Homo sapiens: one gene and its partners. The protein of the gene in region 4 interacts with the protein of the main gene of each other region in a biochemical or structural test. Each region holds a gene or a part of one and is shown on either strand. Other genes may lie near its edges. The genes, in order: PDZD2, GRID2IP, DLG2, AGMAT, LDB3, TJP3 and PARD3B.

Region 1 (3,500 bases), on a different chromosome or scaffold from region 4:
AATACATATAACTGACAAAACTTGTGTTAATTGACTGTTTATGTTATCAGTAAGGTTTCCGGTCAACAGTAGGTTGTTAGTAGTTAAGTTTTTGGGAGAGTTAAAAGTTATATGTGGATTTTCCACTGCTCGAAGGTCAGTGCCCCAACCCTCATGTTGTTCAGGGGTCCACCATATTTCAGGGCAACGGCGGGACTACACCAATGTAACTCTTCTCTCACCAGCAGGTGGCTCCCTTGACTAGTTTATGTCCACAGTTAGGTGGCGAGAGGTATTTCCGAGATGACTAGCTCTGCTTTGAGGACTCTCTGCAAACAAACTCCACACATAGGAGTTAGGAGAATGGTAACTAGTTGCTACTTGGGGGATGAAAACAGCAGTGACACCCATCTGGCACCTGAACATTCAAGACAAGGTCTAGCTTCTGAAGCTGGCTAGCAGCACGTGAGGCCAAAGTCAGACTGAGCTGTGAAACTCGCAACCCAAGGCAGTCCTCCCTCTCCAGGACTCGGGGCGGGCTCTCCTCGGCTGTCTGGGCAGGCAGCACATACCTGGGCACTCACGCGGCCGCAATTCATGTTCCTGAGCTTTCTGTGTTTCACTCACCTCTGATTGTGCTTTCGCTTCCTGAATGAGAGTTAGGATGGTAGATTTCGATCCCACTGACGATAAAACAGACTGTAATCTTTGCTGGTCCCCCGCTGAGACTAGAAGTTGATCCAAACTAAATAATATAAATATATTTGAAGAACATTAAAGAAAAAAGCAATTTCTTCATTTTATAAGAATGCATTTAAAATGATCTCCTTTCTACTATACAAAAGAGAACAGGTATTTTCTGCTCTCTTTTGGTCAAAACTTCCATTCCAAACTAATGGAAGAATAAATCCTGAGTGCTGAACAGAAATGTCATTCACTGCCAATGGCAAGGGGAACTGCTATGAATTCAGAGATCCCCTCAAGAAGTTATGGGACCAATGCTGGAGCTTAACAGGACACTTCTGACATGTTTTAAAATATTCAATACATATGTTCAAGTGAAATATTTTTATTTTTATTGAGATGGAGTCTAGCTCTGTCACCCAGGCTGGAGTGCAGTGGCACGATCTCAGCTCACTGCAACCTCTACCTCCTGGGTTCAAGCTATTCTCGTGCCTCAGCCTCCCGAGTAGTTGGGATCACAGGCACCTGCCACCACGCCTGGCTAATTTTTTATTTTTAGTAGAGATAGGGTTTCACCATATTGGCCAGGCTGGTCTTGAACTCCTGACCTCAAGTGATCCGCCTGCCTTGGTCTCCCAAAGTGCTGGGACTATAGGCCTGAGCCACTGGGCCTGGCTTTTTTTTTTTTTTTTTCGAGATTGAGTCTTACTCTGTTGCCCAGGCTGGAGTGCAGTGACGCGATCTCAGCTCACTGCAACATCAGCCTCCTGGGTTCAAGCGATTCTCCTGCCTCAGCCTCCCAAGTAGGTGGGATTACAGGCGCCTGCCACCATCCCCAGCTAATTTTTGTATTTTTAGTAGAGATGGGGTTTCACCATGTTGGCCAGGCTGGTCTTGAACTCCTCACCTTAAGTGATCTGCCCGGCTCAGCCTCCTAAAGTGCTGGGATTACAGGTGTGAGCCACCACGGCTGGCCTCAAGTGAAATATTTTTAAATATGTTAGAAATTCTCCGTTTAACTCCAGCCACCTCCAAAGTCCAAATTCCCCCGTGCTGTGCTCTCTCTTCCTCTGCATGCCCCTCTCATGTTGCTTTTGCTTAAGTGCCATGTCCTCTAGAAGCCTCTCCTCAGAGCGACACTTTGGTAAACATGTTTCCCTGCAGGCACTTTTATTTTTCCAGCAGTGATATTAAAAACCAAGGGCACTAAAATGGAATGTAGTATCCTGGATCCTGGGACAGAAAAACGATATTAGCAGAATTTATTCAGCAAAATCTGAATGAAGTCTGTAGTTAATGGTATTGCTCCAACATTAATTTCTTACTTTTGACGAATGGACCGTGGTTATGAGAGATGTGAACATTAGGAAGAGTGGGTAAGAAGTGGCCGGGTGCAGTGGCTCACACCTGTAATCCCGGCACTTTGGGAGGCCGAGGCAGGCGGATCACAAGGTTAGGAGTTTGAGACCAGCCTGACCAACATGGTGAAACCCCGTCTCTATTAAAAATACAAAAATTAGCCAGGTGTGGTGGTGCACGCCTGTAATCCCAGCTACTCAGGAGGCTGAGGCAGGAGAATCGCTTGAACCCGGGAGGCAGAGGTTGCAGTGAGCCGAGATCGCGCCATTGCACTCCAGCCTGGGCGACAGAGCGATGCTCCATCTCAAAAAAAAAAAAAAAAAAAAAAAGTAAGTGGGAACTCTGCATTATCTTTGCAACTTTTCTATAAATCTAAAACTATTCCAAAATGAAACAAGTTTATCTGAAATAAAAGTAGTGGGCAGATACTTACTTAACTGACCAGCTTCTTCTAAAAGGCAGATCCTGGGCAGCTTCACCCGTATCACTGGCTGAACTGGGTGTCTCAGCAGCACTGGTTTTAGGGCCACTTCCTCCTGGACAGGCCCTGTTCCCGCCCTTCTCGGGACACGAAACGCCTCCAGCAGGAGGGCCAGGTGACCTCCTGGGGGTGATCTCCAGCTCAGTTTTGAAGAGCACGGCGCTCGGCCCTGCTGAGTAATCCTCGCTGCAGAGCTTGTCAAGGTCAGGCATGCTCAAGGCTCTCAGCTCCTGGAGCTTGGAGCGGGACACGGGCGAGGGCTGCGTGTGGCGTACCGAGGACTTGTTCCTCTTAACAGGAGAAGCCAGGGTCATCGTTGGGGTGGGAATTCCCAAAGGACCAAGTGATTTCTTTAGTTCCGAATCAGAGCCCTTGCTACTGGTCTCTGGTGGGTTCTGCCGAGAGATGGTCAGTGTCATGATTGAGGGAGACTTGGCCATCTGGGGCAGGAGGGTGCCGGCTTCGCTTTGGTTTTCGCTGCAGGAACTCAAGCTGCGTCTCAACAACCTTGCTGCTGCGTCACCTGGGTGGCCCAGGCTCCCGGAAACAATGCTGCCGGAAGACCGCCTCCCAATGGGAGGCTTGGAGCTCACCGACAAAAATGGGGAAGCCCCGGACTTGGCTACAGGCCGGTCAGCATTGGCCAGGTTCTCAAAAGACTTGATCCGCTGCTTCACAGAGAAAAATGAGGTAGATTCATGGGGCCAGTTCTGCTCATAGCAGTAGTGTCGTCTGGTGACTTTGATTTTGTCTGTGACTAGGCAGCTCGTCTCCTGGACTGAAATGATATCCCCTTCATCTGTGGCTGGAAGATTCCTCGATGTGTCCAGCAGCGGCTTTACACTATATATGCCCTGTCCATTAGCCAGGCTGGGAAGACCACCTCTGGATGCCTTTGCCTCGGGGACAACACTGCTTGTCACAGGGACCTGGCTGTCCCGAGAGCGACCCAGGCTGTGTGGGGGGTGACCCTCCCGTCCAAAATGGCTTGAGAACT
Region 2 (3,500 bases), on a different chromosome or scaffold from region 4:
CAATGTGAAATAAGCATGTCATGGAGAATGGGGTACCCATCCCCTCAAGCATTTATCTTTTGAGTTATAAACAATCCATCTACACCGTTTAAGTTTGTATTTATTTTTTTTGGAGCCAGAGTCTCGCTCTGTTGCCCAGGGAATACAGTGGTACGATCTCGGCTCACTGCAACCTCCGCCTCCCGGGTTTAAGCAATTCTCCTGGCTCAGCCTCCCAAGGAGCTGGGATTACAGGCCCCCACCACCATGCCTGGCTAATTTTTGTATTTATAGTAGAGACACGGTTTCACTATGTTGTCCAGGCTGGTCTTGAACTCCTGACCTCAGGAGATCTGCCTACCTCGGCCTTCCAAAAGTGCTGGAATTACAGGTGTGAGCTACTGCACCTGGCCTAAGTTATTTTAAAATGGACAATTAAGTTATTATTGGCTATAGTCACCCTGTTGTGTTATCAAGCTCACAGACTTTTCCTCCGTGGAAGGGAATCTGCTCAGTTCTGCCCCAGCAGCACTTGGCCATGGGGTTTGGGAGGTCAGGGAGCCTGGAAACTTTGTCGGAGTTTGACTATTGCAGAAATGCCTCCCAGCCCACTGCCCAGGCATCAGGTCCCCACCCACTCTGGCCTCCTTCAGTGCCCAAGCTTGGTCCAGTCCTAACCCCTTCCAAATTAACCCCCTCAGGAGTGTCTCCTCCATCATGTACCCTAGCCTGATCCCCTGAATGGGCTTTTCTGACCCTGAGTAGACCAGCCTCTGTGGCCAGATACACACACTCGCATACACACAGGACTCAACTCCAGCTTCCCTACATCACCAAAGTCCAGATCTTCCAAAGCTGTGACTTTCTTCCTGTACCCACAACAGGCTCTGCTGCTATAACAAACAAACCCAACATTTTTTATTGTTGTTGTTTTTGAGACAGGGTCTAGCTCTGTTGCCCAGATTGGAGTGCAGTGGTACAATCATAGCTCACTACAGCCTCCAACTCCTGGGCTCAAGTGATCCTCCTGCCTCAGCCTCTCTAGTAGCTGGGACCACAGGTGTGCACCACCACACCTGGCTGATTAAGAAAAAAAAAAAAGACTGGGGAGATGAGGTCTTGCTATGTTGCCCAGGCTAGTCTCAAACTCCTGGCCTCAAGCAATTCTCCTGCCTCAGCCTCCCAAAGTGCTGGGATTATAGGTGTGAGCCACTGTGCCTGACCCAAAATCAACAACTTAGTGCGTTTGCACTACAGAAGTTTACTTTTCACCCACAGAGTCCTCTAGGGGGTCAGTAGACTTTCTAGGGTGGCTTGATGTCCATACGAGGTCTCAGCATTTCAGACTCCTCCATCTCTATGTGAAGCTTCAGGGTTCCCTATGGAAGAGGAAGAGAGCTTGGAAAATTGTGCATCTCCTCTTAGAACAGCACCTGTCCTCAATGCTCATTGGGCAGAACTAGGTACACTGCTCCTCCCTAAGGATGCTGGGAAATGTAGTCTAATGTGTGTCCAGGAAAGAGGGAAGACCTAGAAATATTGGTGAGTGCGAGTAATGCCTGCTACAATCCCAGATCACCTGCCATGGAGCCAAAGGTCTATCCCAGACTCCATCTAATCCCTGCAGAGTTGGAAGGGGGCACGTTCAGAGCTCCAAACAGGGCAGGATGCAAGAGAAGACCTGCCCAGGAGCAGGGCTGGGCAGCAACCCGCTGAGGGTAGAATCCGACAGGCTGCCCAGGCCAGCTGCAGTGTGTTTTCTGGCAAGGAGGAACGGGGAAGTGGAGGATTTTGGTTAGGGCTCGCTGGGCACCCACAAAAGCTGAGAGTGAATCTCCAAAAATGACTTCCTCTGGAAGATGAAGGGCCTCCGTGGAGCCCAGTTGGTTTTCTATCTTTTTTTTTTTTTTTTTGAGACAGAGTTTCGCTCTTGTTGCCCAGGCTGGAGTGCAATGGCGTGATCTTGGCTCACTGCAACCTCCGCCTCCTGGGTTCAAGCAATTCTCCTGCCTCAGCCTCCCAAGAAGCTGGGATTACAGGCATGTACCACCACGCCCGGCTAATTTTGTATTTTTTTTAGTAGAGACAGGCCAGGCTTGGTGGCTTGGCTGGGCACGGTGGCTCACACCTGTAATCCCAGCACTTTGGGAGGCCGAGGCAGGCAGGTCACCTGAGGTCAGGAGTTCAAGTAGAGATGGGGTTTCACCATGTTGGTCAAGCTAGTCGCAAACTCCTGACCTCAGGTGATCCACCTGCCTCTGCCTTCCAAAGTGCTGGGATTACAGGCATGAGCCACTGCGCCAGACTGGTTGGTTTTCAATCACCAGCCCTCCAGTTCTCGCCTGCGCTTTCTGCCTGCCCCAGTTTTTCCTCCTTGAAGTGGCTGATATTTAATAGAAAATCCATTAGTGTCCCGTGATGATACCTCATGCTTAGATGTAGGCTGAGAACATCTGGGTAATAACTGACACCGAAACCGCACTGTAGCACGGGCCCCAGGAGGGAGGAACTATTTTTTCCTCTTTCTTACATAAAACATCTCTGCAGCCAGCCATGTTCTCCTTTGAATTGAGGTTGCTGCTGACTTTGATTTCCAAACTGGCAACCTTCCCCAGCACGGCGCGTGCGTGGGGAGGGGGCGGCTGGTGCTGCCAGCCTGGCCCACTCACAGGGAGGGAAACAGTGGTGAGCTGGGGCCTGCAGGAAGTGCAATGCAAGGCTGCTTTTTGATTCAGTCCCATCCACATTCTCTGAGTGCCTAATATGTGCCAGGCGCTGTGCTTGGGGCTGGACAAGCATGAGACCCCGGATCATCACACCTGGGTGGGGGAGACAGACGGTTACACAGACTCATGGTGCATCTGTGCTAGGATTCAGACGTGTACAGAACGTGGCCTCTGACTGGAAACCCTCGAAGCTTCCCGCTACTTCTCCTCCCCTTTTGGAATCATCTAGAAAGCGGGTGGATATACAGTTCCAGAGTTCAAGAGCGAGCTCTCGGCTGAAGATCGAGGTCTGAGAGTCACTGTCTGGGGTTCTTCGCCAGAGCTGGGTCGTGGAGAGCCTCAAGTGCAATAGTGAACTGCAGTGGCAAAGGGCAGTGGTACAGAAACAGCACGTGTAGACGGCTCCAGACTACAGAAGGGAGGAGAATGAGCAGCTTTCAGGATCAAAGGAGGATTGTCTTTTATTTATTTATTTATGGAGACAGGGTCTTGATCTGTCACCCAGGCTGGAGCTCAGTGGTGTGATCATGGCTTACTGCAGCCTTGATTTCCCGGGCACAAGAGATCCTCCTACCTCGGCCTCCCAAGTATCTGGTAGCTGGGAATACAAGCGTGCACCACCATATCTGGCTAACTTTTTACTTTTTCTTTTCTTTCTTTTTTTTCTTTTGAGATGGAGTCTGTCTCTGTCACCCAGGCTGGAGTGCAGTGGCGCGATCTCGGCTTACTGCAAGCTCCGCCTCCCGGGTTCACACCATTCTCCTGCCTCAGCCTCCCGAGTAGCTGGGACTACAG
Region 3 (3,336 bases), on a different chromosome or scaffold from region 4:
CCTTACACCTGGTTCCCGGAGGTTTAAAAACAAGAACTTTCGAGCTGGGCTTATGCCTCTAATCCCAGCACTTTGGGAGGCTGAGGTGGGTGGATCACCTGAGGTCAGGAGTTCGAGACCAGCCTGGCCAACATAGTGAAACCCCCGTCTCTACTAAAAATACAAAAAATTAGCTGGGTGTGGTGGCAGGCACCTGTAATCCCAGCTACTAGGGAGGCTGAGACAGGAGAATCACTTGAACCCAGGAGGTGGAGGTCGCAGTGAGCCGAGATCGTGCTACTGCACTCCAGCCTGGGCAACAAGGGTGAAATTCTGTCTCAAAAAAAAAAAAAAAAAAAAAAAAAACCCAAGAACTTTCTTCCTGGATTACCATATGTGAAGTTAGATGTTTTATTTTTTACCTTATTCAGAATATAGAAAGTGTCAGTGCCTTAGCAGTTTGTAAATATCTTGAATCAGGTAATATTAAGTAATCTTTCTGTCAGTAACCAAGATACGAGCTGTGTTTCATCCTAAAAGAACATCCAGGTAGGAGAAACAAAAGTGTACATTTTGACAGTGGTTTATATTTTGTATACAATACAATAATATATTCTGAGGATTGTTTTTAAATATCTAAATCATCTTTCAGTAGTAATTTATTTTTAAGACCTAGTGTCATATGGATAATACTGATGTGTTTTGGAAATCTTTCTACAAGATAACTTTTGTTCAAATGAGACAATAAAATGTACTTAAATCTACTCCAAGTGACTTAGTGTTTTAGGAGATACACAACTGAGCAGTTTGTTTATATTTCTTCCTGTTTATGTTTCTTATAAATAGTGGACTTATGGTATTCTCAATATGAATAGCTCTGTATGGTAAAAATCTCAAGTTACCAGAGATTTGGGGAATTAATGGGTTTTCCTATTAAGGGCTTTGAGGGTTGGGAGGCTAACTAAACTTCCCTCTAAAATCTTCATTATTTCCTCGGTGTCTACAATATCTGAATTTCTGCTGCTGCCAAAATAAGTAAATATACAGACTGTAAGGCCAGTTTTCTTTTCTAAATAGGGAGCTCTCAGTCTGAAAATTGATCATTGCCCAGCTCAGTGCCTGGCTCAGAGTAGGCACCCATAAAATATTGGTTAAATAGATGAGTGATAAATTGTCCAGTACTACAGACAGACATGTAGAAAGTGCAAAGACTGTGAATCATTTGTTACTGATCCAGGATATCCATTGAAAGCATTTCTTAAAATCATGAATGTAACTTTGCTTATATGAATTTTCTGCTTCTTCTTACTAATGAAAAATGATATGAAGCTTCCTGATGAGTCATCTGCTACTGATTTGAGCCTCCAATGTGTAAGTGATGATTGTTCTTCACCATCCAGGAAATTATTTCTAATTCTGGGTGTGTTTGCTTTTGTTACAGCTATTGTCCAAGGAGATACTTTAGAAGATATATATAACCAATGCAAGCTTGTTATTGAAGAGCAATCTGGGCCTTTCATCTGGATTCCCTCAAAGGAAAAGTTATAAATTAGCTACTGCGCCTCTGACAACGACAGAAGAGCATTTAGAAGAACAAAATATATATAACATACTACTTGGAGGCTTTTATGTTTTTGTTGCATTTATGTTTTTGCAGTCAATGTGAATTCTTACGAATGTACAACACAAACTGTATGAAGCCATGAAGGAAACAGAGGGGCCAAAGGGTGGGACAGAAAAGACATTGCAGTATGAAGGAAGGCTTTGGTTTGCTCAAAGTGCCAGGTGTAGGGATGAACCTCTGACGGGCTTTCTGCCCAAGAGATGAGATGAGAGCCTCCTCACCCCAGCAGATGTCCAGAGCTGATTTAGCTGCAGAGCTCTCTGTGTCTTTTGCTTTAAAGAAAAATTGCCAGCACTCGAACCTCATCAGCCTTCCCATTACCCACATCTGTAATTGGTACACTTTGAATTTTATAACTATGCACATCTTTTGATTTCTTAACAAGCAAATGAAAGAAAGAAGGAAAAAAGAAAGGAATCCCTTTGGAGATGACATACTATCAGGGAAGGATAAGTGTGTAGTTTTTTGACTGGCATCTGCAAAGACAAGAATTTCATAAAATTTGCAAGTGTATGGAGGACTAACCTCACTGACAGGAGGGGATTCCACCTGGGATTAGCTTTATGATTGTTGATTGCCTATTTTGCCATTTATAAACTGAAAGAAGGCACTAAAGATGAGAATAATTTATACAATAAAAATATATTAAATGTATAGAAACAAATTTCTATAGGTTAAAAAAGTTTTGTGAAATATTTTGTAAAGACTAATATTGAAAGACTAAATGTATGCAACATCAGCAGATGATCAAATTCAAGACCTGAAAGTTGCACTCTCCCTTTTGTTGCCAATGATCTGTTAAGAGCATCTGAGTTCCTTTTAAGTCTGACAAAGACTTCTTCCTCACTTACCTCCCTTCCACATTAGTGATACACTCTCATGCAGCACATCCCTTAATGAGTTGCCCTCATGGATATTTTTGGAAGACATTTGGTTAATGCATTTTTTTATGCTGATGGCTTTTCAGAGACAAACTTATGCAAATGATCTAAAGGGAAGTTTTTGCTTTCCTCTAGTTAAATAACCTGAGCCTGCCATGCAAATAGTTGAATAACTTTGTTCCTAGTTACTGACATACAATTCTTAAAGGACCATTTAGCATTTTGGCCAACAATGAGTAATTAGGATTAGTACCTTTTTGTTTTACAGAGTAACTGAGAGTTTTGTAACATCCAGAGATGGTACTAGAGCCAATGAGAGATCTGTTCCTAGATGCACTATTTCTTTGAGGAAGAGAGAGAAGAGAAGTGTCTGGTTGGGGGTGAGGGGGTGCAGACTTTTTTGTTTCTATGTACAGAGCAAAGAGATAGAGTCACAAGGAAAGACAATTAATGACTTTGAGCTCAACCAACTGAACTGCCTTTCTTGGAGCTGCACCTGGACCAAGTTTATTTTTTAACAATTATAATAACGATGATTTAAAAAAAGAAACCTCCCAAAGCCTATAAACTGAACTAGAAGAGTTGGTTTCCCACTTTAGAGTGGATGGCGACATCAGCATTGCTTTTGCCCATGGTGTTTGGGGAGAGACTTTTCAGTGATAATAACCACTCTACTCTGGGTTCTGTGCATGCCCAGACTAAGCCCCATCGCCTTATTTCTGGGGTACATCCAGACCTGGCAGGGATTCTGCCACACTGTGCAGCAAACCAGCATGTAGGCTGGGTAGGAGAGCAAGAGATAGAGCCATCAGAGTGATGGGGCTTCTTCACAGTAAGAACATCGGAGCTTAG
Region 4 (4,190 bases):
ATGGGGTTTCACCATGTTAGCCAAGATGGTCTCATCTCCTGACCTCATGATCCGCCCACCTCGGCCTCCCAAAGTGCTGGGATTACAGGTGTGAGCCACCGCGCCTGGCCTAATGTGCAACCTTTGTGTAGAGGTTGCAACGTAAATGCAAATGTGAGCCTTTTCCATTCAATCTCAACATTTAGAGATCAGAAAAAATAATATATATAATACTGCTAAATGGCTCACATAATTCCATTACAAATCACTTCTTTCTTTCCACGTGTGTTTTTCTTTCCCCTTAGAAATAAAGAGGATGTAACAGGTTCTCTGGCACTGTGACCTTCCTTACAGCTTGCCTGTAAGTCCTTTATTTATTTATTTATTTATTTATTTATTTATTTATTTATTTTTGAGACGGAGTCTTGCTCTGTTGCCCAGGCTGGAGTGCAGTGGCCTGATCTCAGCTCACTGCAAGCTCCGCCTCCCGGGTTCATGCCATTCTCCTGCCTCAGCCTCCCAAGTAGCTGGGACTACAGGCACCTGCCACCATGCCCGGCTAAATTTTTGTACTTTTAGTAGAGATGGGGTTTCACCGTGTTAGCCAGGATGGTCTCGATCTCCTGACCTCGTGATCCGCCCGCCTCAGCCTCCCAAAGTGCTGGGATTACAGGCGTGAGCCACCGCCCCTGGCCTCTAGTCCTTTTTTAACAAGGTTATTTAAAAAGACTTTACTGGCCAGGCGCGATGGCTCACGCTTGTAGTCCCAACTACTCGGGAGGCTGAGGTGAGACGATTGCTTGAGCCCAGCAGTTTGAGGCTGCAGTGAGCTATGATTGTGCCACTGCACTCCAGCCTGAGCAACACAGCAAGACCCTGTCTCAAAATAACTAGCTAGCTAGCTAAGTAGCTAACTAACTTTACTGCTTCTTGAGATTCCTATCCCTGGACATTTAAAAATACATTATTTAAAAAAATGCATTTCCTATTTTTCTGGCTTAGAGAAAGATCATTTTCCTTCATATCTTTCTGGCTTTAAAAATATTACTCTGGGGTGGCTGCTGTGGCTCACACCTGTAATCCCAGCACTTTGGGAGGCCAAGGTGGGAGAATCACTTGAGTCCAGAAGTTGGAGACCAGTCTGGGCAACACAGTGAGACCGTCTCTATAAAAACAAACAATTACTCTGAATGGGAGAAGAGGCTGCTGAAGGCCACAGTGGGGAGCAGGGCGCAGACACCCCTGGCACAGTGCCGGCCAGTGGGCACCCCCAGCCTGACTCTATTTGCCAGAGGCTGAAGTCCAGAGGGGTTGAGGGGAGAGCACGGCAGGTCCTGGGGCCCCTCCCCCGCCTTGATCCTAGGGCGCCCCTGACCTTTGAGCCGGCTCGGGTTCCGGCTCTGGCGCGTGCACACTCGCCTCGCCGTTCGGGACCAGCCAGATCGCGGCGGCCTCGCGGGCGGTTTGGTCGGTGAGGTCTTGGCCGCGCGCGGCAATGCTGAGGCTGCTGGCGTCCGGGTGCGCCCGGGGCCCGGGGCCCGGCGTGGGCGCGCGTCCTGCCGCAGGGCTCTTTCATCCGGGGCGCCGCCAGAGCCGCCAGGCTTCCGACGCGCCCCGGAACCAGCCCCCCAGCCCCGAGTTCGTGGCCCGGCCGGTGGGCGTCTGCTCCATGATGCGCCTGCCGGTGCAGACCTCCCCCGAGGGGCTGGACGCTGCCTTCATCGGGGTGCCCCTGGATACTGGGACCTCCAACCGGCCTGGGGCGAGGTAAGGCCGGAAGGACGGGGGCCGGGTACACGTGGAGGGACTGCTTGCTGGCTGTCGGGCATGGAAAGCACCGAGACAGGCGCCCCTGCTGGCCCCGGGTCGAGTTGGAAGCTGGTGGCCGGCTCCAAAATGCCCCTTATGGTTTGAGATGGTTGATTTACCTGGACCCTCAATAAGCAAACCCCAGGGCTCAACATGGGCGTGGCCTCCCACATCTTAGTGTCATCATTGGTCAAGAAGGGATTTTGGCCGGCCCGGTGGCTCATGCCTGTAATCCCAGCACTTTGGGAGGCTGAGGCGGGCGGATCACGAGGTCAGGAGTTCGAGACCATCCTGACCAACATGGTGAAACTCTGTCTCTACAAAGGTACAAAAAAAAGAAAAAAAAAGCCGGGCATGGTGGCGCGGGCCTGTAATCCCAGCTACTCGGGAGGCTGAGGCAGGAGAATCGCTTGAACCCGGGAGACGGAGGTTGCAGTGAGCTGAGATTGCGCCACTGCGCTCCAGCCTGGGCAACAGAGTGAGACTCCGTCTCAAAAAAAGAAAAAAGAAGGGATTCTGGAGCCTGAACCTTCTCTGTGTCCCCATCCTGGGGCCTTGCTGGGATGGCTGCTGTGGATTCCTCCCCTCTCCTCTCCCCAGCTTACAGTGGCAGGTGACATTGCATTTGAGAGCAGAAACTGGCTGCCCCTTCCCCAAATCTGAAGATGTCACCTGACTCAAGAAATGCTCAAATGAAGGCAATTTTCCTAGGATCAAGTCGGAGGAAGCAAAATTCATCTTCCTAGTTATTGAACGTCAGCAATTTCTGATTCAGCTCAGCAACACTATATCTGACCGTACTGATCTGAATTATGAAAGCCAGCACTTATTAAATGTCTCCTAAGTGCAAGGTGCTTTGCATAGATTACCTCATTTAATTTTTACTACAGTGCAAGGTAAATATTTTACAAATTAGGAAACTGAGACTCAGGTAGATCATGAAATTCACTAATGCCATTTAGTACACTTATTTAGTCTCTTCGATACATAGCCTAGATCGGTGATTCTCAAGTGGGGCGGTTTTGCACTCCGGGGACATTTGGCAGTATCTGGAGGCGTTTTGGGTTGTTACACCTTGGAGGAAGGGTGCTACTGGCACCTAGTGAGTACAGGCCGGGATGCTGCTAAGCATTCCATTATGCAATGCCGCGACACGGAATCATCTGGCCCCAAATTGCTGAGGCTGAGAAGCCCTGGCCTAAGCAAAGCCTGAAATCTCTGCAGATGATGGCTGACAGGATGATTCTTCCTTCTGCAGATTCGGACCTCGCCGCATCCGGGAAGAATCAGTGATGCTTGGGACAGTCAATCCTAGCACGGGGGCCCTCCCCTTCCAGTCCCTCATGGTTGCAGACCTAGGCGATGTGAATGTCAATCTTTACAACCTTCAGGACAGCTGCCGGCGAATTCAAGAGGCCTATGAGAAAATTGTAGCAGCTGGCTGTATTCCTCTGACCTTGGGTAATGTCAGTCTGCAAGAGCCAGAGTAGTTCCCTGCACTCAGGGTTTACTTATCCTGTACTCAGGGGCTTGAGTACAGCTACTTCTCCCCTGCAAGCCACTGCAAATGTGCAGACAGTAGGAAAGAGAGCATTGTAATTCATTTATTTTAATCCCTGGGGAGAGAATATTTCACGTGTGTGTGTATGTGTGTGTGTGAGACAGTCTCACTCTGTTACCCAGACTGGAGTGCAGTGGTGCAATCTCGGCACATTGCAACCTCCACTTCCTGGGTTCAAGCAATTCTCCTGCCTCAGCCTCCCAAGTAGCTGGGATTACAGGCGCCCACCACCATGCCTGGCTAATTTTTGTATTTTTGGTAGAGTCGGGGTTTTGCCATGTTGGCCAGGCTGGTCTTGAACTCCTGACCTCAAGTGATCCGCCCACCTTGGCCTCCCAAAGTGCTGGGGTTACAGGCATGAGCCACCGCGCCTGGCCAAGATGATGTTTCTAATGACTTTATTTGCGAGGAGAACTGCAAAGAGGGTGTTTTTGTCCTGCTCAGGGTCTACATCAACCTATAGGGCAGCTTTCCCCTTATCCTCACCCCTGACCCACTCTCACTTTTTCTCTTGTTCACAAATACTTAAAATGACAGGGATCTTTTCCTAAATATCCAAATTCATTTTTGCCAAGTTAGAGAGCCTAGCCTGCATGGCATAGTGGGAGGAGTGTGGTTTCCCGATGGCATGGTTTGAAGTCTCAGCTGCACTTCTCCCTAGCAATGTTGCTGTATACCGTGCTTGATGCTTCACACCCTCACCTGTAAGATGGGAATGATCACAGTAACACCTACTCACTGCATGATGTGAGGGGCATATAATGAAAGTGCACATGAAATGCCCAGCATCAAGCATGGCATATCTTTTTTTTTTTTCTTTTTTTTTGAGACAGAATTTCAC
Region 5 (3,500 bases), on a different chromosome or scaffold from region 4:
GGACAGAATAGAGTGAGTTGGAAGAGAGCCTAAATATCGTGCTCAAGTGAGAAACATCCACGCAAGTGCCTGCTTCAATGCCATGTTTTCAATGAGCATATTAACAGGGCTTCCTAAAAAGGGAAGCGACTACACTGTTTCCAACCACAGAATCTAAGCTGCCTTCTTTATCACCAAACAGCTTTAAGATGCTTACCTAACTCAAACTATCACTAGTATAAAGTAGTTTGAAGGCCCCTCTACTTCAATAAATACTTAAATAATAGCTAGATCAACTCAGCTCATACATTTTCAAAATATTGGCCAAAACAGCAAATGCATATATATCAGTGCATCTGTCCCTTCCAGCAGTTAACACAATTGTACAAACTCAGTGTGCTGCATTTAAAGGAACATTTGAAAAGGATGATGCAGACCTGAAGGTGGGAGGTCCTGCCTCCTCGTGTGTTCTTACTGAGGGTGGCAGAAAGTAAGTTTCCTCTTCCCCACCCAGAGTTTGGGCATGTGAGCCTATTCTGCCATCCTGTTTCAGACACTGTCTCTCTGTCTCTCTTCTTTTCCACAGGCCACCAAGCCTATTTGAGATGGAGGGTACTGGGGGAGACGTCATAAGTGAGCAGTCACAAGTTGGGGTGAAATTCATGCACACGACTGGACACTCATGCTAACGAACCCTTAAAGCTAAACAAAGGCCAAAGACAACCCAAAGCCTTTAAAAAAATCTCTCACACACCACAGAGCAAAACTGGAAAAACCCAACTCTACTTTCCCATCACAATTCAAAAAGGAGCTAAGCCTTCTGGGGATGTTGGATGTTTCAGACTGAGAGAGGGTGGCTGACAGGGCCATCTTTTCTCAGCTGTCTGCAACCTGAGCCAGAGCCCTTCCTGGAGCCCTGGCAATTGCCCAGTGGCTCCCAGAAGACATCTCTTTGGACGTCCGGGCTCCCAAGAAGGTTTTAAGTTTGTTCAAGGTCTGAAGTCTGATGCGCAGAGGTAGCTCCATGACGCTAGTAATGGAATAACACTTCCTTTTTTGGTGAGGAAAGCCCAATGGGTCTTAGCTAACAAGCTCTCAGCTATGACTCTAAAAATACCCTGCAGCGAGTGCTGTTTGGCACTTCAATTTGTTTGCCAGGGGAGCGCTTAAGAACTCCGCAGAATGCTTCAGATTCTCCACAGCTGCTCTAAGCTCTGTCCTCCTCTGGTGACCAAAGCAAGTGTATCGCTTTGGGAAAGCTGCTTGTTGCTTTTCACTTTTGAGTTCTTGGAATTCTGCTCTAAATGTCTGAAGTACAATTCCAGTCTTGGATTAATAACTAGCTTGGTTTTGAGTCTTCATTTGGCTCCTAGTCTGAACTATGCAAATGCACGATCTGTGTACAGAAGAAAAAACCTAAAATTATACTTCCAAAGGGCTCAGTCGCTTCCTCTCTCTCCCCATTCCCCTCAGAAGAAACATCAGCCTCCCGAATCCTTTGTTGCCAGCAGCAGGAGCAGCTCCGGGCCTCGTCAGCACAGGCGGCCTTGGCCGCCTACAAGTTGATGGTGTGTGCGTGCTTCTTGCACAGGGGTCTGTCCTTCTTGGAGTAGAACGGCTGCCCCTCCAGATTCACATGGCAGACCTGGAGCAGAGAACAGACCTGCGTGAGACCCACGTGGCACAGGGCATGAGCAGATTTCAATCACTTTTTTAAGAAAACGCCCTGGCCAGGCGTGGTGGCTCAGTCCTGTAATCCCAGCACTTTGGAAGGCCAAGGCAGGCAGATCACTTGAGGTCAGGAGTCCAAGACCAGCCTGGCCAACATGGCGAAACTCCATCTCTACTAAAAATACAAAAATTAGCCAGGGGCATGTTGCCATGTGCCTGTAATCCCAGCTACTCGGGAGGTTGAGGCAGAAGAATCTCTTGAACCCGGGAGACAGAGGTTGCAGTGAGCTGTGATTGTGCCACTGCACTCCAGCCTGGGCAACATAGCAAGACTGTCTAAAGCAAACAAACAAACAAACAAACAGCCTTGCCCCATGCATTCTAGAGAAAAGGCAACAGCCTATTTCTCCCACTATGAATTCTTAATGACGGAAGCAGAGTACATGAGTTGGACTATATAAAAACTAAGATTCCTGAAGAACAGAATAAAATCAAATGAAATTAATTAAATTTAATGGAATAGAGAAAATATACACTATGAAGCTGACCAATTCATGCTATCTAAAATAGCATGAATAGAGTCAATACAAGTTCACAAGTCAATATACCACAGAGAGGATTCACGTCTAAAGAAAATCATTAGTAAACTAACAAACACATCAGAGAAGATTGTACTCACTAATAATTAAAGAAAAAGCAAATTAAAACTCCCCTGACTCCAGGCGCAGTAGCTGATGCCTGTAATCCCTACACTTTGGAAGGCCAAGGCAGGAGGATCGTTTGAGGCCAGGTGTTTGAGACCAGCCTGGGCAACATAGTGAGCCTCTGTCTCTACCAAAAAAAAAAAAAAAGAAAAAGAAAGAAAGAAAAGAAAATTAGTTAAAAAAATTACAAGAAAAACTGCCCTGAGATACCACTAGACACATATTAATCTAGCAAGACAAATAAAACAAAAAAACCTCAATGGCCTGTCACCTTTAACCTAATATGCCTGTAGCCAAAAAGCTTAAAAAAAAAAAAAGTATTCAATCAAAAATCAGCAATGCCAAAAAGGAACAAGGCCTACTCGTGCACTGCTAGAGACATGTGAGTGAGCTCAGTGTTCCATAGGGAATCTGGCCATGTTGAACAAGAACCATTGAGATGTGACTACCCTGTAACCCAGTAATGCCACGCTAGAGAATTTTATCCTGCAGAAGCAACTCTGCAGAACAACAAAACAACCTGTGCTCAACTAGAAACTGAAAACTAGTAAAATTTCTCTCAATAGGAAGATGATTCAGTAAATTTTCATGGTGTATTTTTCCAATGGAATGCCACCATTTAAAAAGAGAGATGGGCCAGGCATGGTGGCTCACGCCTGCAATCCCAGCATTTTGGAAGGCCGAGGCAGGAGGACCACGAGATCAGGAGTTTGAGATCAGCCTGACCAACATGGTGAAACCTTGTCTCTACTAAAAATACAAAAATTAGCCGGGTGTGGTGGTGCGCACTGGTAATCCCAGCTACTCAGGAGGCTGAGGCAGGAGAATCACTTGAACCCGGAAGACGGAGGTTTCAGTGAGCTGAGATCATGCCACTGTACCCAAGCCTGGGCGACAGAGCGAGATTCCGTCTCAAAAAAAAAAAAAAAAAGGTAGATATGGAAAAGTATGCAGAGAAATATACAAAAAAACAAAAGAGATGAAATTCTTTTTTTTTTTTTTGAGATGGAGTCTCACTCTGTCACCCAGGCTGGAGTGCAGTGGCGCGATCTCAGCTCACTGCAACCTCTGCCTCCCGGGTTCAAGCAATTCTCCTGCCTCAGCCTCCCTAGTAGCTGGGATTACAGGCGCCCACCACCATACTCA
Region 6 (3,500 bases), on a different chromosome or scaffold from region 4:
CTCTACTAAAATTACAAAAATTAGCGGGATGTGGTAGCGTGTTCCTGTAATCCCAGCTACTCGGGAGGCTGAGGCAGGAGACTTGCTTGAACCCGGGAGGCAGAGGTTGCGGTGAGCCAAGATTGCGCCACTGCACTCCAGCCTGGGTGACAGAGTGAGACTCTGTCTCAAAAAGAAAGTAAGTGAGGTGAGGAGAAACCTTTGTGAGCCTGGCACTTTCCAGCTCTGTCAACACAGGGCTCGGACTTGGCAGTAGGACAGTGTCAGAGACTTGGGCCTCACTTCCCTAAGGTACTTCCTGGTCCTTCACAGGAATTCTTGGGGTCATAGTGGCCCCAGAGCCCTTTTGGAACATAAAGTCCTGGAAACCATCGAGTGTTTGAGGGTTTGATGCTTCTTGGAATTATGTTGTTAAAATGGTTCTGGGCCCCAAGTGGCTGACAGGTGATATGGCTCAGCCCAGCCCAGAATTAGGGACCACCAGGTTCAGAGAGAAAGAGCTAGAAAGAAAATATGAAATACAGACAGGAAGAGAGGGAAAGAAAAGCAGAAAGTGGGGATTTGTGGTGTGGGGAGCGAGGAGTGAGAAGATGCCAGGTGTAGCTGTAGCTTCAAGGCCGGGTGCAGTGGCTCACACCTGCAATCCCAGCACTTTGGGAGGCCGAGGTGGGCGGATTACCTGAGGTCAGGAGTTCAAAACCAGCCTGGCCAACATGGTGAAACCCCATCTCTACTAACAAATACAAAAATTAGACGGGTGTGGTGGCGGGCACCTGTAGTCCCAGCTACTAGGGAGGCTGAGGCAGAAGGATCGTTTGAAACGAGGAGGTGGAGGTTGCAGTGAGTTGAGATCATGCTACTGCAATCCAGCCTGGGCAACAGAGTGAGACTCTGTCTCAAAAAAAAAAAAAAAAATGTAGCTTCCACTCTATGATTATAGTAGGTTCTACAATTGGCTCCATTTTACAGGTGAGAAAACGGAGGCCCAGAAGGATAAATGTCTTTGTGAACCTAGGGACACCAATGAATTAGAACCAGGCCTTGTAGATCTGGAGGTTCCAGGGGCACCCCCTCCCCAGGGAGGGCTTGTTACGAGGGTCTCCCCTGCAAAGCCTCCTCCGTAAGACCCGCCCTCCTCTCTCAGGACAGGCGACCACATCGTCATGGTGAACGGGGTTTCCATGGAGAATGCCACCTCCGCGTTTGCCATTCAGATACTCAAGACCTGCACCAAGATGGCCAACATCGTGAGTAGGCAGCCCCTGGCATGGCCAGCATCTCTGACCCCAGCCTGGGTCGTGCCGCTGTGGGGGTTGTAAGCTTCTGAGAGCAAGGAGTCATCTTCTCATCTTACAGTTTGGACATTGAGGCCCAGAGAGAGACTGGTGTCCCCCAGGGCCACCCGGGGGCTGAGCAGAGCCTCCCCCAGCCCTTGCCTGTAGCTGACCCTTCCTGTCCCCTCCTCTAACAGACAGTGAAACGTCCCCGGAGGATCCACCTGCCCGCCACCAAAGCCAGCCCCTCCAGCCCAGGGCGCCAGGACTCGGATGAAGACGATGGGCCCCAGCGGGTGGAGGAGGTGGACCAGGGCCGGGGCTATGACGGCGACTCATCCAGTGGCTCCGGCCGCTCCTGGGACGAGCGCTCCCGCCGGCCGAGGCCTGGTCGCCGGGGCCGGGCCGGCAGCCATGGGCGTAGGAGCCCAGGTGGTGGCTCTGAGGCCAACGGGCTGGCCCTGGTGTCCGGCTTTAAGCGGCTGCCACGGCAGGACGTGCAGATGAAGCCTGTGAAGTCAGTGCTGGTGAAGAGGAGAGACAGCGAAGGTCAGAAGAGGCGGGAGGTCGGACACGATCAGTACTGGACACAGGGCACCGTGGTCGGATGGGCGACGGTTTCAAGTGATTCTCCTGCCTCAGCCTCCCTGGTGGCTGGGACTCCAGGCGCCCGCCACCATGCCTGGCTAATTTTTGTACTTTTGGTAGAGATGGGGCTTCACCATGTTGGCAAGGATGGTTTCGAATTCTTGACCTCAGGTGATTCACCCACCTCGGCCTCCCATAGTGCTTGCTGGGATTGTGGGCGTGAGCCACCGCGCCCAGCCTGGAAGCTACAACTACACCTGGCATCTTCTTGCTCCTCGCTCCCCCCACCACAAATCCCCACTTTCTGCTTTTCTGTCCCTTTCTGCCTGTCTGTATTTCATATATTCTCTCTAGCTCTTTCTCTCTGAACCTGGTGGTCCCTAATTCTGGGCTAGGTTGAGCCATATCACCTGTCAGCCACTTGGGGCCCAGAACCATTTTATCAACATGTCCCCGCGCTGATCCCCGGGACCTCTGTTTAGGCCACCTCACTTAGCAAGAGGGACTCAGCAGATGGGATGGAGTGAAGGACCCTGAGCTCAGAGGTGATCCTGGATGATCTGGGGGGCCCAGTGTCACCACAGGGTCCTTATAAGAGGAGGCCTGGCTGAGTGTGGTGGCTGATGCCTGTAATCCCAGCACTTTGGGAGGCCAAGGCAGGCAGATCACTTGAGGCCAGTAGTTCTAGACCAGCCTGACCACTATGATGAAACCCCATCTCTACTAGAAATACAAAAATTAGCCAGGCGTGGTGGTGTGCACCTGTAATCCCAGCTACCTGGGAGGCTGAGGCACGAGAATTGCTTAAACCCGGGAGGTAGAGGTTGCAGTGACCTGAGATTTTGCCACTGCACTCCAGCCCCGGCGATAGGAGTGAGACTCCTTCTCGAAAAAAATTAAAAAATAAAAAATAAAAATTGAAACAATGATGATGTTATGAGCAATAGAATGCCCTTAGCCTGTGCATGGCAACATCACGAGTGGCACGGTGACCTGGTGTCCCCGCCCCGTGGAGATGTCATTGACACAATCAGATCTCGGGTCCTACGGGCGACATCACTGTTCTCCTTATGATGCCATCAAGGTGTTAGGATGGGAGGGCCCGCACCTGGACTGCTTACAGCAGGAGAATGCTCCCAGGCACCCGTCTCCAGAGTCCTGCCTCAGTTTCCCTCCTCCCCCCTTACAGAGTTTGGCGTCAAGCTGGGCAGTCAGATCTTCATCAAGCACATTACAGATTCGGGCCTGGCTGCCCGGCACCGTGGGCTGCAGGAAGGAGATCTCATTCTACAGGTGAGGCCGGGCTTCTTGTCCTGAGAGCAGGGAGACAAGGCAGGGTTGGGGCGGGCAGTCCCACGGAGTCATACAGCAAGGACAGCAGAACTGGGCCCCAAAGCATTTACCTTCAGTGTTGTTGCTTGTATCTCAAAGGTTGCAGATGGCCAGGCATAAAACCCCCTTTTTCCCCAGCTACTACTAATCCACAGCCAAATGTCGGTTTCTAGTATCCCCATGGGGTTGTCTGTTTCTAATACCCTCTAGCTTTGATGTGCATCAGAGACTCATGTGGGCAGCTGACTCCTGGACCTACCCTAGGTGACTGGATGCTAATGACCCAGTCACCAGGTTTAGGGGAGC
Region 7 (3,500 bases), on a different chromosome or scaffold from region 4:
GACAAGTAAGTCGTAGATTTGGGTTTAGAAACCAGGAACTGTGTCTTTAGATGTTTGCTCTCAGCCATTAACTGCATAGCCTAGTACTATGTATGTTGTTATGAATTGGAATTTATCCATATTGTTTGTTTTTTAATGCTTGATTTAAAAAGACATTTCCATCTACTAACTGCTATATCACATCAACCTAAAAATAGCAATTTTGCTTCTGGAATAGTGATGGGATATCCACAAGTTTCTCTTAATTATATATTTTATGAGGTCTACATGTAGAAAATCTAGTTTCTGAGGCAAATATTGTAGGATTTGCAAATCAACTATGAAAAATATTCCTCAGTCTAACTACAAATGGGAAAATGGGCAAGATCTTAGACATCCAGGTGGCGAGTGCTATAAAGAACCAAATTTGGTGGGAACATGAATGTAAAGTAAGTCCATTATTTTCTGAGGCACTGAGTAATGTAGATGGGAGAAAGACAGGTTTCAAGATTGAGGATGAAGTTGAGGTTTCTAAAGTTTGGAAAGTAAGTGAAGTCCAAGAATGCCATTCTATATTTCGTGGACAGCGTCTGAGAAGTAACCACTACCTGTTGAGAACAAAGAAAACCTATTTGTGGAATGTTGGGAACCCCCTGAATCAACATCAGATAAGGCCAGAGGTTGATGCGATCCTGAAGATACAGGGGGAGCTTTTGGGAAGGCTTTAATTATGCTCTGAAGTCTGGGCCTTTGAGGTTCCTGCCACCATTTGATGAACTCCATTGGAAACGTGGTGGACTGAGAGGTGAGAACTGTGGGATTGCTTATCTCCGAATCCTGACACTTTATCAGTGTCCCAGCCTCCAAATCCAATTTAGTGAAGTTGTTAGTGGAGAAGTGATTGTCTTCTTATGTGCTTATGGTGGGGATCGTTGAGTAATTAGTTAAATTTATCATCAAAATTATGTGTCACAGGTGAATGGGTAATTGAGCTGTATCCTGCAGGGACTCTCAACCCTGGCTGAACTTCAGTAACCTCTAATTTTCACATTAAACATTTTAAACATTACAAATACCTGTGTCCCTTCCCCCAAGATTCTCATTCATTGGGTTAGGAGTGGGTCCTGGGCATAGGTATTTTAAAAAGCACTCCAGGTGATTCTAATGCCCAGCCAAGGTTGAGAATCACTAATCTACTCTAATCTTTTCGTATGGCTGAACTCATTGGATTTTAAACTCTTTTGATGGCAGATACTGTGTCTTAGATATCTACACACCAATCTGTTATTAAGCAACAGAATAAGCACAATACATGTTATTTGTTAATGGGATTATTATTATGAAGTGCAGGGCTTAAAACCTTGCTGTCTAGGGATTCAAACCTTTTAAGTGTCTTTCACTGATTTACAGAAAGTGAATTTATTACACATTGTTTTTCAAAATGAATTTTGACATTTCTGGCCTTTTCTCATTAAAAAAAAACAAACAAATAAAAGCATGGAATTTGTTAGAGTATTTATTGACCTTTTAGTGCCATTAGGAATACTCCTACTCCTACCCTTAAAGAATTCTTCCTATAGAAGGTGCTCAAATAATTGCTTAAAGTGAACATTCATTTTATATAGACAGTTGTCCCTTAGTATCCATAGGGGATTGATTCCAGGACTTCCCTCGGATACCAAAATCTGCAGATGCTCAAGTTCCTGATATAAAATGCTGCAGTGTTTGCATGTAATCTACACACATCCTCCTGTATACTTTAAGTCATCTCTAGATTATTTATAATACCTAATACAATGTAAAAGCTATTTAAACAGTTGTTATACTATACTGTTTAGGGAATAGTGACAAGAAAATTGTGTGTGTGTGTTCAGTACACGTAGTTTTTTTTCTAAATATTTTTGATCTGGGGTTTGGTTGAATCCGCAGATGCGGAATGCATGGATGCGGAGGGCTGACTGTGTGTGTGTGTGTGTGTGTGTGTGTGTGTGTGTGTATTCACTGAGGATGAAGTGAATAAGGGAAAGGCTTGTCTAGTAATGAGGATGTATAGTGTGTTCTGGGGTTGGAATGAATGAGAAATAAGAGCATTGAATTCGTGGAATAGCAGGCATGCTGGAATTTACAAAGGCCAATTTGTGGCTCTGACTGCGTATGTGAGTACACCCTTTTTTGGAAAGGAAAAATTATATTTGATAGGGTTTTCAAGATGAATCTTTTCTGTATTCAGATATTTTGAATAATATGTTTGTTTTACAAGTTGAGGCAGCTTCCCAGAACTGGGAGTAGTCTGATTAGACTAACAATTCCATTCCCTGATTAACTGTGGGATCGGAATCTAAGAGAATTTGTGTAGTTAGAAGAATCTGGTATGATAATGTGTGGGAGTAGCCTGGAGGAATAGGCTAGAACTCTTGAATTTCTAAACTTTTCAGGCTTTGATGCCTTGTTACCTAAATAGATTTTAAGGTTCTTGTATACATAAGCTAGGCCCAGACTGGATTCCTCAAATGCTTTTCAATTGATTGGGCACTGACTTACTTGAGTGCTTTATTTCCTATTCAGACCTCACTTCTTTACAGCATGTGGACAGAACTGACTCGCCATCAGCATTACACATGCTTCCAACTTGGTTTTGGTTCTGCTACTCAGCTTGCATTGAGCAGCTTCTAAGTTTGCAAACAGAGGGCTCGTGGGGCCTGCTGTGACCCACAGACATATTTTTGTAGGTCTGCTCAGTGTTATATTTTGACTTAGTTGTCAGCATTTAAATATTTTGAGATTTCATGCAAAACTCCAGATTCCTATCTTCTTTGGGGGAAAAGCAAATTGGAAGCTCTGACAATGCTGGGCTTTACTTTCCCACATAGCAACCATCAGTTGGAGCTGAGACACCTCTGCTCTCTTTAGAAAGAATTATTAATGCTTCAGTCTCCATTATTGCTTCCCTAACAGTGAGGATAAGTTATTGTCATCATGCTTGACTGTTTTTACTCTGTGCTTATTTTCTCACTTATGGCCTTAATTCATGGTTGCTATTTGGCCTGCTGGTGGGCATTTGAGTTTGTGCTCCTGGATCTTCTCTCCCCTCCCTCCTCTTTCTCTTTCTCTCCCTCTCACACACACATCCCCACACACCCTCTGTGTATAATCCATGCACATAGGGTTTGCTGAACCGGGTTTGGCTGGTTATCTGAGCTGAGTTAATTGCCCTGTGCGCGATTGGGAGCCACAGCCCTGATTTGTAGCTTGAGGCCCTGTGCTTAATCAAGTGGCTTAGTTAACCAGGAATTCATTCCCAGGGTATTCTGTGCTACAGATTCCCTTTGAAGAAGTTGGGCAAATGGTAATGTTGTCAGATTTTTGTGAGACTATTTTATGAGTGGACTGTTAAAGACATCTGAGGAGTGTGTTAAACATTCAGAGCTTTGGGCCTCTCTTGGAAAATCTAAAGCAGTGTAGTGCAGTAGAACTTTCTGGGATGAAGAGATGTTCTAGATCTGCATCTTTCAAGAGGGCAG

Evidence for each region.
Region 1: the proteins of AGMAT (region 4) and PDZD2 interact in a test that uses a peptide from one of them, tested with the Homo sapiens proteins (one large-scale study listed by IntAct).
Region 2: the proteins of AGMAT (region 4) and GRID2IP interact in a test that uses a peptide from one of them, tested with the Homo sapiens proteins (one large-scale study listed by IntAct).
Region 3: the proteins of AGMAT (region 4) and DLG2 interact in a test that uses a peptide from one of them, tested with the Homo sapiens proteins (one large-scale study listed by IntAct).
Region 5: the proteins of AGMAT (region 4) and LDB3 interact in a test that uses a peptide from one of them, tested with the Homo sapiens proteins (one large-scale study listed by IntAct).
Region 6: the proteins of AGMAT (region 4) and TJP3 interact in a test that uses a peptide from one of them, tested with the Homo sapiens proteins (one large-scale study listed by IntAct).
Region 7: the proteins of AGMAT (region 4) and PARD3B interact in a test that uses a peptide from one of them, tested with the Homo sapiens proteins (one large-scale study listed by IntAct).

The regions. Positions count from the first base shown.
Region 1 is NC_000005.10:32,090,131-32,093,630, reverse strand, and holds part of PDZD2 (PDZ domain-containing protein 2), read right to left. Parts: coding exon 2,456-3,500; intron 725-2,455; coding exon 607-724; intron 21-606; exon of another isoform or gene 1-20.
Region 2 is NC_000007.14:6,544,962-6,548,461, reverse strand, and holds part of GRID2IP (delphilin), read left to right. Parts: intron 1-3,500.
Region 3 is NC_000011.10:83,458,009-83,461,344, reverse strand, and holds part of DLG2 (disks large homolog 2), read left to right. Parts: intron 1-1,420; coding exon 1,421-1,527; 3' UTR 1,528-3,336. UniProt on the Homo sapiens protein: Required for perception of chronic pain through NMDA receptor signaling. Regulates surface expression of NMDA receptors in dorsal horn neurons of the spinal cord.
Region 4 is NC_000001.11:15,582,252-15,586,441, reverse strand, and holds the start of AGMAT (guanidino acid hydrolase, mitochondrial precursor), read left to right. Parts: upstream 1-1,390; 5' UTR 1,391-1,474; coding exon 1,475-1,746; intron 1,747-3,046; coding exon 3,047-3,249; intron 3,250-4,190. UniProt on the Homo sapiens protein: Hydrolyzes linear guanidino acids to form urea and the corresponding amines. Displays specificity for substrates having a negatively charged head group and short chains including taurocyamine, guanidino propanoic and butanoic acids.
Region 5 is NC_000010.11:86,731,011-86,734,510, reverse strand, and holds part of LDB3 (LIM domain-binding protein 3), read right to left. Parts: intron 1,625-3,500; coding exon 1,535-1,624; 3' UTR 1-1,534. UniProt on the Homo sapiens protein: May function as an adapter in striated muscle to couple protein kinase C-mediated signaling via its LIM domains to the cytoskeleton.
Region 6 is NC_000019.10:3,728,884-3,732,383, forward strand, and holds part of TJP3 (tight junction protein ZO-3), read left to right. Parts: intron 1-1,144; coding exon 1,145-1,247; intron 1,248-1,471; coding exon 1,472-1,823; intron 1,824-3,051; coding exon 3,052-3,155; intron 3,156-3,500. UniProt on the Homo sapiens protein: TJP1, TJP2, and TJP3 are closely related scaffolding proteins that link tight junction (TJ) transmembrane proteins such as claudins, junctional adhesion molecules, and occludin to the actin cytoskeleton.
Region 7 is NC_000002.12:204,548,475-204,551,974, forward strand, and holds part of PARD3B (partitioning defective 3 homolog B), read left to right. Parts: intron 1-3,500. UniProt on the Homo sapiens protein: Putative adapter protein involved in asymmetrical cell division and cell polarization processes. May play a role in the formation of epithelial tight junctions.